Regions from separate parts of the Homo sapiens genome. Here regions 1 and 3 are each linked to region 2. The links come from fine-mapping of genetic effects on gene expression. A gene starts in region 2. Each other region holds a variant in brackets. All regions are shown on one strand. Distances are between the middles of the regions.

What was found. PIP is the estimated chance that this variant, and not a neighbour inherited with it, causes the effect.
Region 1: its variant is the best candidate, but not a certain one, in a credible set for the expression of MFSD1 in monocytes (Fairfax 2014, PIP 0.64).
Region 3: its variant is the best candidate, but not a certain one, in a credible set for the expression of MFSD1 in visceral fat (GTEx, PIP 0.63).

Annotation. Positions count from the first base shown.
Region 1 is chr3:158,743,625-158,746,473 of GRCh38, forward strand. All of the region lies in intron 4 of LOC100287290 (a long non-coding RNA gene), which reads left to right. Among named protein-coding and RNA genes, the nearest start is that of RARRES1, 13 kb to the left of the region's middle. The variant A/G (reference allele first, on the strand shown) is at 1,453.
Region 2 is chr3:158,800,909-158,803,408 of GRCh38, forward strand. MFSD1 (major facilitator superfamily domain containing 1) reads left to right here and starts at 1,146. Exons shown (of 16, transcript NM_022736.4): 1 at 1,146-1,407. The coding sequence starts at 1,245.
Region 3 is chr3:158,733,283-158,736,101 of GRCh38, forward strand. It overlaps LOC100287290 (a long non-coding RNA gene), which reads left to right. Exons shown (of 5, transcript NR_171782.1): 2 at 669-755. Among named protein-coding and RNA genes, the nearest start is that of RARRES1, 2.2 kb to the left of the region's middle. The variant G/A (reference allele first, on the strand shown) is at 1,524.

The DNA.
Region 1 (2,849 bases), 57 kb before region 2:
ATTTCAAAGAAAATTCATAACACTTGTTAATATTTGTATGCCATGAACTTTCTGGAGTGATTGATCTATGCAATTCTGTTTATGACACTGGTGTTCATCAGTGAAATTTGCATAGAGTATGTTATCAAGGCAAACCAAAACCAACTCTTCATACCTCAGGGGAAGGCGTTTTCCCACATGTGGCAGCCTAGATAACAGGACAGTGTGTTAGAAAGCCCTCATTCTATTTTCCCCTCTTCACCATTATTTCTACAGGGTGCACACCAGGGCATATATATAATAGTGAGAGCAAACAGAAGTACTGATAAATCACCTGGCTAATAAATAGACAACACAATCACCTAGATGACTTAGAATACGTGAATACATACAGACAGAGGTTGGTTGATTCCTTGGAGTGTTCTTATGACAGTGCTGATTTGTGTGTGTGGTTAGTTGTTAAAATTTGGTGCTCCTGCAGGGAGGATGATTGGTGCAGGCTTCTGTTCAGCCACCCTGCCCCTAGTTCCATGGAATGTAATGTGCGGTGGGTGGATCTTCAAGTCCAGAAGCAGAAAAGCTGGATTTGTGGGCGTTCAGAAGAGTCAGCAAGTTGTGAGAGCAGCAAGGGGCAGACTGGTCTGGGCAGAAGGTGTGGGCCGAGTGAATGAATTGTAGGGAAGACCAAACAGAACAGCAGTGAACCTGGCTGGAATCATGCCAGTGGCTACTTAGCAGTAAAGGAAAAAGGTGGAAAACCTTGAAGCCCAGCAATGGGCATTTGCTCTTAGAGGGTTCTCTAAAGTCCCTGCACACCTAGCCTTGAAAAGAGCCTACTGTGCACAGGGTGAGTTGGGTTGGATTATTTTTTTGAAACAAATGCCACTGTAAACATGTTTTTCTCTTCACTGGTAAATATCAGAATTATGATGAGGCTTTAGGATAAGGAGATATTATTGTTGGCTAAAATGAAATTCTATCTTGATTCTTAAAGAACTAAGAAGGATGGTACAGGGCAAAGAGCTCTGGTCTGAGAGTCAGAAGGCATGGGGTCTAGTCCCAGCTCAACAACTCAAACTGGCTCAGTCTCTTCTGTGTAAAGTGCTGGGTGTGGGATGAATTACATGGCAAACAGAGGGAACTGCCGGTTTGAAACACTGTAGTTTTATTCTCTTTTACCTGTGCCTACCCGGTGCAGAGAACCTTGCTAAGTTGTCCTTTCTTTGGACACATCTCACTAACGTCTTCCCACCTTCTGAAAGAAGACTTGTGCCTTCTTACTATCATGCAGATATCATGCCTGGCCTTATTACCAGATATTTTAAGTTAAAAAAAAATCCAAACCACCAAAGATCAGAGTTTAATTGATATGCTTATTGCTCTGAGCTAAATGAAACAAATGAATGTCTGGAATTTGGTAAATGAGATGACTCCTATTTTGAATTGTAAGTAAACTGATGTGGCAGTCAGGGT[A/G]GTCTAGGATATGCTGCAATAACAAACAATGCCTACATCTCAGGACCTAAGATAAAAAAGGTTTATTTGTTGCTCTCATCACAAGTCCGTTATGGTTTGGCTGGGGGTTTTACCATAGCATTGTCAGTGTTCTTATTCCACAGGGCAGGCTGGTGGAGCAGCTGCTTCTGGAACATTTCTTGTTGCTACAACTGAGGAAAAAGAGAACAGGGTGAATTATGCTTAGGTTCTTAGAGTTTCTGTTCAGGAGTGATACATATTACTTCTGCTCACCTTTTATTGACAAAAGCATGTCGTAGGCGATGCTTAACTTCTTCAGGGGGTGGGAAAGTACAATATCATCATGTTCTCCAGGAGGTGGAGAGCTGGAAGTATGTGGAACAGCACAAATGCTTACCACAACAGTGACTGCTGGGCGAGACCTAACCTCATCATGAGCAGAGTCTTTCATATATTGTATTAGTTTGCTGAGCTGCCATAACTGAATACCACAGACTGGGCAGATCAGACAGCATTTATTTTCTCCCAATTCTGGAGGCTAGAAGTCCAGTGTCATGGTGTAGGCAGGGCTGGTTTCTTCTGAGACCTCTTCCCTTGGCTTCCCCTTCTCTGTGTGTCTTCACATGATCTTCCCTCTGTGTGTGCCTGTGTCCTTGTCTCCTTATAAGGACACCAGTCATGTTGGACTACAGCCCATTCCAATGACCTTACTTTAACGAATTACCTCATTAAAGAGTCTGTTTCCAAATGCTGTAATATTCTGAGGTGCTGGGGGTTAGGGCTTCAATATATGTATGAATTTTGGGGGGACACAATTGAGCCCATAACAGATATCATGTTAACATTAGAACTGGGGCTGTAACAATGGTAATTGTTAATAGCAATTAGTAATTAGCAAAAATTTTGATACATATTATCCCTGTCCCTATACTTGGTATGAAAAAGCTCAATAATTTTTTTTTTGTTTTCTTTTATAGGGTCTTGCTCTGTCACCCAGACTGGAGTGCAGTGGTGCAATCTTGGCTCACTGCACCCTTCACCTCCTGGGCTCAGGTGATCCTCCCCATCAGCCTTCTGAGTAGCTGGGACTACAGGCATGTGCCACCATGCCTGGCTAATTTTTGTGTTTTTAGTAGAGATGGGGTTTCGCCATGTTGCCCAGGCTGATCTTGAACTCCTGGCACAAGCAATCCATCTGCCTTAGCCTCCCAAAGTGCTGGGATTCCACACGTGAGCCCGCACGCCAGGCCACAAGATCTATTTGTGCAAATAGATTATTTCTTGCTATAACATTCATGACAGCTCTAAGATGCTGTGATTAGAGTTTAAAAATTGTAGATTTAATTGCAGACCTATAGAAAGTTTTCATAATACACCTCATACCTTAAACTCTCTTT
Region 2 (2,500 bases):
TTCCCATTTTACCTCCTAAATAATTACTGATTTTCTTCTGTGCCATTCCTGCTTTTTATTGCTAACAGGCCCTCGTCATCTCTAATCGTTACGACTGCAGCATCTTCCTAATAATCCTCACAGTTTTCAGCCTCTAGCTTTGACGCCCTCAAAATTCTGTTAGTAAAGCCTGAGGGCTCCCAGAAAGCGACGATGGTGCTGTGCTGGCAGACCGAATGTTTTTTAAAACACAAAGCTTGCAGTCCTGCTGCTGTGCTCAAAATCCTTGCATGGCTCTTCTTGAAACAGGTTTAGTGTTTCTACTCGAGTTCCTTCTCTGTCGTTCAACACAAACACATACACACCCAGTTCTGTTTCACGCTTTTGTCTTTATTATCCCTCGTAACTGCCCGCCCTGCAACCAACCCGCTCAAACAAGCACCCTGACTGGCGCATTCTTACTCATTCTAGCCTGGGTTTCAACTTCAAGGAGCTTCAGCGCCCCTCACTCCCTTGCCCTGAAAGCTGGCTAAACTACGCACCTTTTCTCCCCTTTTGAAATGACCTTTCCAGATATTTCTATGGAATTCAGTGCCATTTTCTGCCGCTGTTCTCACCACATTCATTCATCATGTTTAGTTTTAAAAGTACCAGATTCTGTCGATTTCTCCAACTGAACTCTGAAATCTTTGAGGTCAGGGAGCTTGCCTCATTCTATTTTGTATTCCCAGTACGTGACACATGGCTGGACACACCAGAAATTGTCCGATCAAGTTTGTGGGTATTAAGAGTGGTCAAAGACGCTGGGGAGGGCAGTGCTGGGAGAAGGGCAGCGCGCGTCTTGGCGACCCCAGCGCAGTTCGAACTACTCCGGAGTCTGGTGTGGAGCCGAGAGGGAGCCCCGCACTTTTCTCCCCGCGGAGCTGCGCTGAGTCTGAAATAGGTGTACGCGTCAGCGGGGCAGGAAACGGAAAGACAGTGCAGTAATTGGTGGAAAGCTGGAAGTGGGCACCTCGAGGGCCTCAGCCCCACGAACACAGTCACCCAGGAAAAGCGAACCGCGCCAGGCCCTGTCATCGACCGCTGGGTCCGTCCTCCCAGCGCTCGCGGCCGCTCACATGGGCGTGGCCCTGCGTGACCTGCCGGGGCGTCACGTGAGCTCCCGGAGTCATGTGACCGCCGTCTTGACAGTGTTCCACGGGCGCTGCTTCCTGCCTGGGTTTGGAGTTGTCACCACTTTCCCCTCTCCGTCTCCTGCGGGCGCAATGGAGGAGGAGGATGAGGAAGCGCGGGCGCTCCTGGCAGGCGGCCCTGACGAGGCCGACAGAGGTGCCCCGGCCGCCCCTGGAGCCCTGCCGGCCCTCTGCGACCCCAGTCGCCTGGCGCACCGGCTTTTGGTGCTGTTACTGATGTGCTTCCTTGGCTTTGGTGAGCCGGCCGGGTGGGTTGGGGCTGATCTTTAAGGAATTCCCGACTTTCTCTTCGAGGTAGATCGTCATCGTGGTCACTGGTGCCACGGGGCCTCAGCGCAGCTTCTGTCTTAAGCTCCTGGGCCTCCTTATTTTCCCCTTTGCGATCGATTCCAGCCACACCTGTGGATGTTGCTAGTTACTCCGCGTCCGGAACGTGGAGGTCGAGGGACTGAGCTGGGCGAGTTTTGTGGCACTCCTTTGCTCTTCAGTAAGTCCCAGGGGCTAGCGACTCGCCCTAGAGGCGATAGATATGAAGGTAACTCCAGATTTTCAAGGTTCCTCTTTTGGCACACGTGGTCGGAGGAAATTCAGAAAGCTTTAACTGTTCCTAAACAACTTTTGTTTGTTTGGTTTTAGGTGAGACAGGGGCTTGCTCTGTCACCCAGCCCGGAGTGCAGTGTTGTGAAAGTGGCTTACTGCAGCCTCCACCTCCTGGGTTCAAGCAATCCTCCCGCCTCAGCCTCCCGAGTAGCTGGGACCACAGATGGGGCGCCACCACACCCGGCTTTATTATTATTATTATTTTTAGACACAGGGTCTTACAATGTTGTCCAGCTTTTAAAAAACGTGAATGATTTCGTCGGCAGTCTTCTATATATTTTTCACCCTCTTTGAGAAAATGTATGAGTGTGTCTTGCTGATAGCTTCAGTGAATAGATATTGTTCTCTTAATCTTCCACTCTGCCACTGTGAAGCAATCATATTGGACGGGACTTGTGGTAGTCTTGACAGTGGTTGGTTTCTCTTATGAAATCTGATGTCTCCGAAAACAGTTTCTTGATAATTAGAAAAAAATTTTCCTTCCTATGTTACAGTTTTTAATTTATTAAGCAAAATTCTAATATTAATTTGGTATGAATGTGTTTTTCAGGAGGCTAGCTGGAGCCCGTGTAATCAGCAGGTTTAAGAACATTATGGTGGATAACTATTCTAGCGCTGAACATATAAGTAGACATGAAGGATGCTTTGGGCTTTGGTTTCCTTGCAACTCCTTTTTCCCCCCTCCCCTGTTTTTTAAAAGATGATGCCCATCCATTAGCTTTAAAGCA
Region 3 (2,819 bases), 67 kb before region 2:
TTTTTTTTTTTTTTTTTTGAGACCATGTCTTGCTCTGTCTCCCAGGCTGGAGTGCAGTGGCACGATCTTGGCTCACTGCAACCTCCGCCTCCCAGGTTCAAGCAATTCTACCTCAGCCTCCCGAGTAGCTGGGACTACAGCCACCATGCCCGGCTAATTTTTGTATTTTTAGTAAAGACGGGGTTTCACCATGTTGGTCAGGCTGGTCTCAAACTCCTGACCTCGTGAGCCGCCCGCCTGGGCCTCCCAAAGTGCTGGGATTACAGGCGTGAGCCACGGTACCCGGCGGCAACTCTTTTTAGACAGGTGGCAGTGAAGGGCTAAGATAGCCATTGTTTTTAAACCGTAGGCAAGAGAAAAAGTCCTGGAGAACCAGGGCTGAGAGAGGAGAACTGGTACTGCTAGGCACTCCCAACATCCATTTCTCCATCCTGCATTTTGTTCAGGGGTCTACCCCTGCACCAAACGTGGACCCCAGTGCCATTGTGGGGCTAAAGGAAATCTCTTTTTGCCAGTGGGTGGTTGAGAGTGGGCATGTGCCAGTTCTGCATGGTGAGCAAAGCCTGTGGGTTGATGGGCGTGGTGCCATCTCTGGAAAGATCCTGTCTTACTGCACTTCTTCCTCTGGCTGTTGTCTGTCCCTTGTCTGTCTTTCCTTCCTTCTGCAGATAATTGTGAAACACCTGTGCCAGGCCCTGGGGGAATGAGGGTGAACAATCTTAAACATCTCTGCCTTCCTGGAGCACACCTTCTAGGCAAGTGGGGCCCGGACACTCAGTGAGGCCAAGGGAATGTGTGCTATATTGGATGAAGTTACATGCCAGGGAGAAAAATTAAGCCAGAAAAAGAAATGGGGAGTTGGGAGGTGGTTAATCTTAAAAGGTGTGGTCAGGGCAGGCCTCTCTCGGGAGGTAATATTTGGGTGAGGACCTGAAGGAGGCAGAGCCAAGTGGACATGTATGCAAAAGCACTGTAGGCAGAGGGAACGCAAGTGCAGAGGCTAGGGCAGGAGCCTATCTGGCATGTTTGAAGAAAAGCAAGAAAATCCAGCTGGAGGGAGAAGCCAAGGGGGAGAGTGCAGGCCCTCGATAGGCCCCAGTTAGGTCTGGCTGTGCTGCCCAGAAGCATGCCTCTGTCTTGCTGGCTGCCTGAGAATGAAGCCCATTTCAAGAGTGGCAGAGCAGAGAGAGGGGAGGGCCCTGGGTTCCTGATGGCATTGTTGAACACAGGAATCAGCGGATCCTGGAGTTTATTTCTTATTATTTCACTTCCCTGAAGCTGGAGTTGCTGTTTCTTGCCCTCAGAGGCAAGCCTAGCACAGGTAATCACCTCCCAGAACCCAGTCATCTCCCCATAGTTTGTTTTGTGCTGCAATAATAGAATACCTGAGACTGGGTAATTTATAAAGAACAGATATCTGTTTCTCACAGTTCTGGAGGTTGGAAGTCCAAGATCCAGGCACCAACAGGCTTGGTGTCTGGTGGGGTCTTAGCTCTGTCTCTGCTTCCAAAATGGGGCTTTGC[G/A]TGCTTCATCCTATGAAGGGGAGGAACGCTGTGTCCTCACATGCTGGAAGAGTGAGAGAGTACCCACTCTTATGACCTAAACACCTCACTCTAGGCCCCACCTCCCAACATTCTTGCACTGGGAATTGAGTTTCAACATGAATTTTGGAGGGGACAAAAACACCCAAACTATAGCACCCTCCAAGAGGTTATAGTAGCAGGCTTTTTGAGAATTGATCACTTCCAGGTGATTTTACTTCAGTGCTTTGTTCCCTGTGAGTATGTTAGATTGCTTTCAACTGTATGTAATGGAAAACCCGATTAACAGTGTGGACCATTTATTGGTTTGGAGTGGGAGATCTCAGTGAGTTTCTGAAAGACCCAGGCTCTCTCCATCCTTCTGCACAGCCATCCTCAGCTGGTTGGCTTTTTGTCCATGCACTTGTAGTTTCCTGGTTATAGAATGGCTGCCACAGCTCCAGACAGCACATCTTCACATGCTGCAGCCAAAGGCAGGTAGCAGGGAATAGGTTGCCAGAGTGGAAAGAGAGCTGGACATTGTGCACCTGTTTGTTTTTTGCATCAGGAAGAAATATCTTTTCCAGAACCTCCTGCCTACACCTTTCTTCCCCCCAAGACCTTCCTTTATACCTCCTCAGCCAGATCTGGGTTACACTGGCAAAGCCTAGCTGCAAGGGAGGCTGGCAAACTGAGTGTCTGTCGTTTTTCAGAGTCAATGGTCTGGTCTGTAAACTAGGATTAAATTTAACTGCATGGAATAAACACCCGAATGACATTGGCTTAAACAGGAGAGGAACTTATTTCTCAAAAGAAGTTGTGGGGTAATGGTGGGATGGTAGACAATCTGCGGTTGGTATTGGCAGATCCATGAGGTTGTTAGAGGTCCAGGCCTTTTCCAGATCTCTGCTCCCACATCCTGAGGATGTACCCCTTGCCCTCAGGGTCCACGATGGACACTAGCCATCAGCAGGACTCCCTTTATGGATTTCCTAGAAGTCTCACAGGGCACTTGTGCCCTGTATCTTATTGGCAAGAACTTGGTTGCAAAGGAAGCTGGGAAATGTAGTTTTTATTCACGGTGGCCATATGCCAAAATAAAACTCAGGATTTTGTTACTGAGGAAGAAGATTGTGTCTTACGTTGGGTTTCCTAGAAGCAGGCCCAGAAACAAAGATTGTTCCTAAAAGAAATGCTCCGAGCAGAATTCAGTAAGGAGCTAGAAGAAGGATAGCCATGCAAGGATCTCAGACAGTTATATGACAGGTAGGTTCAGCCTGACCTGAAGGGGAGCTCTCA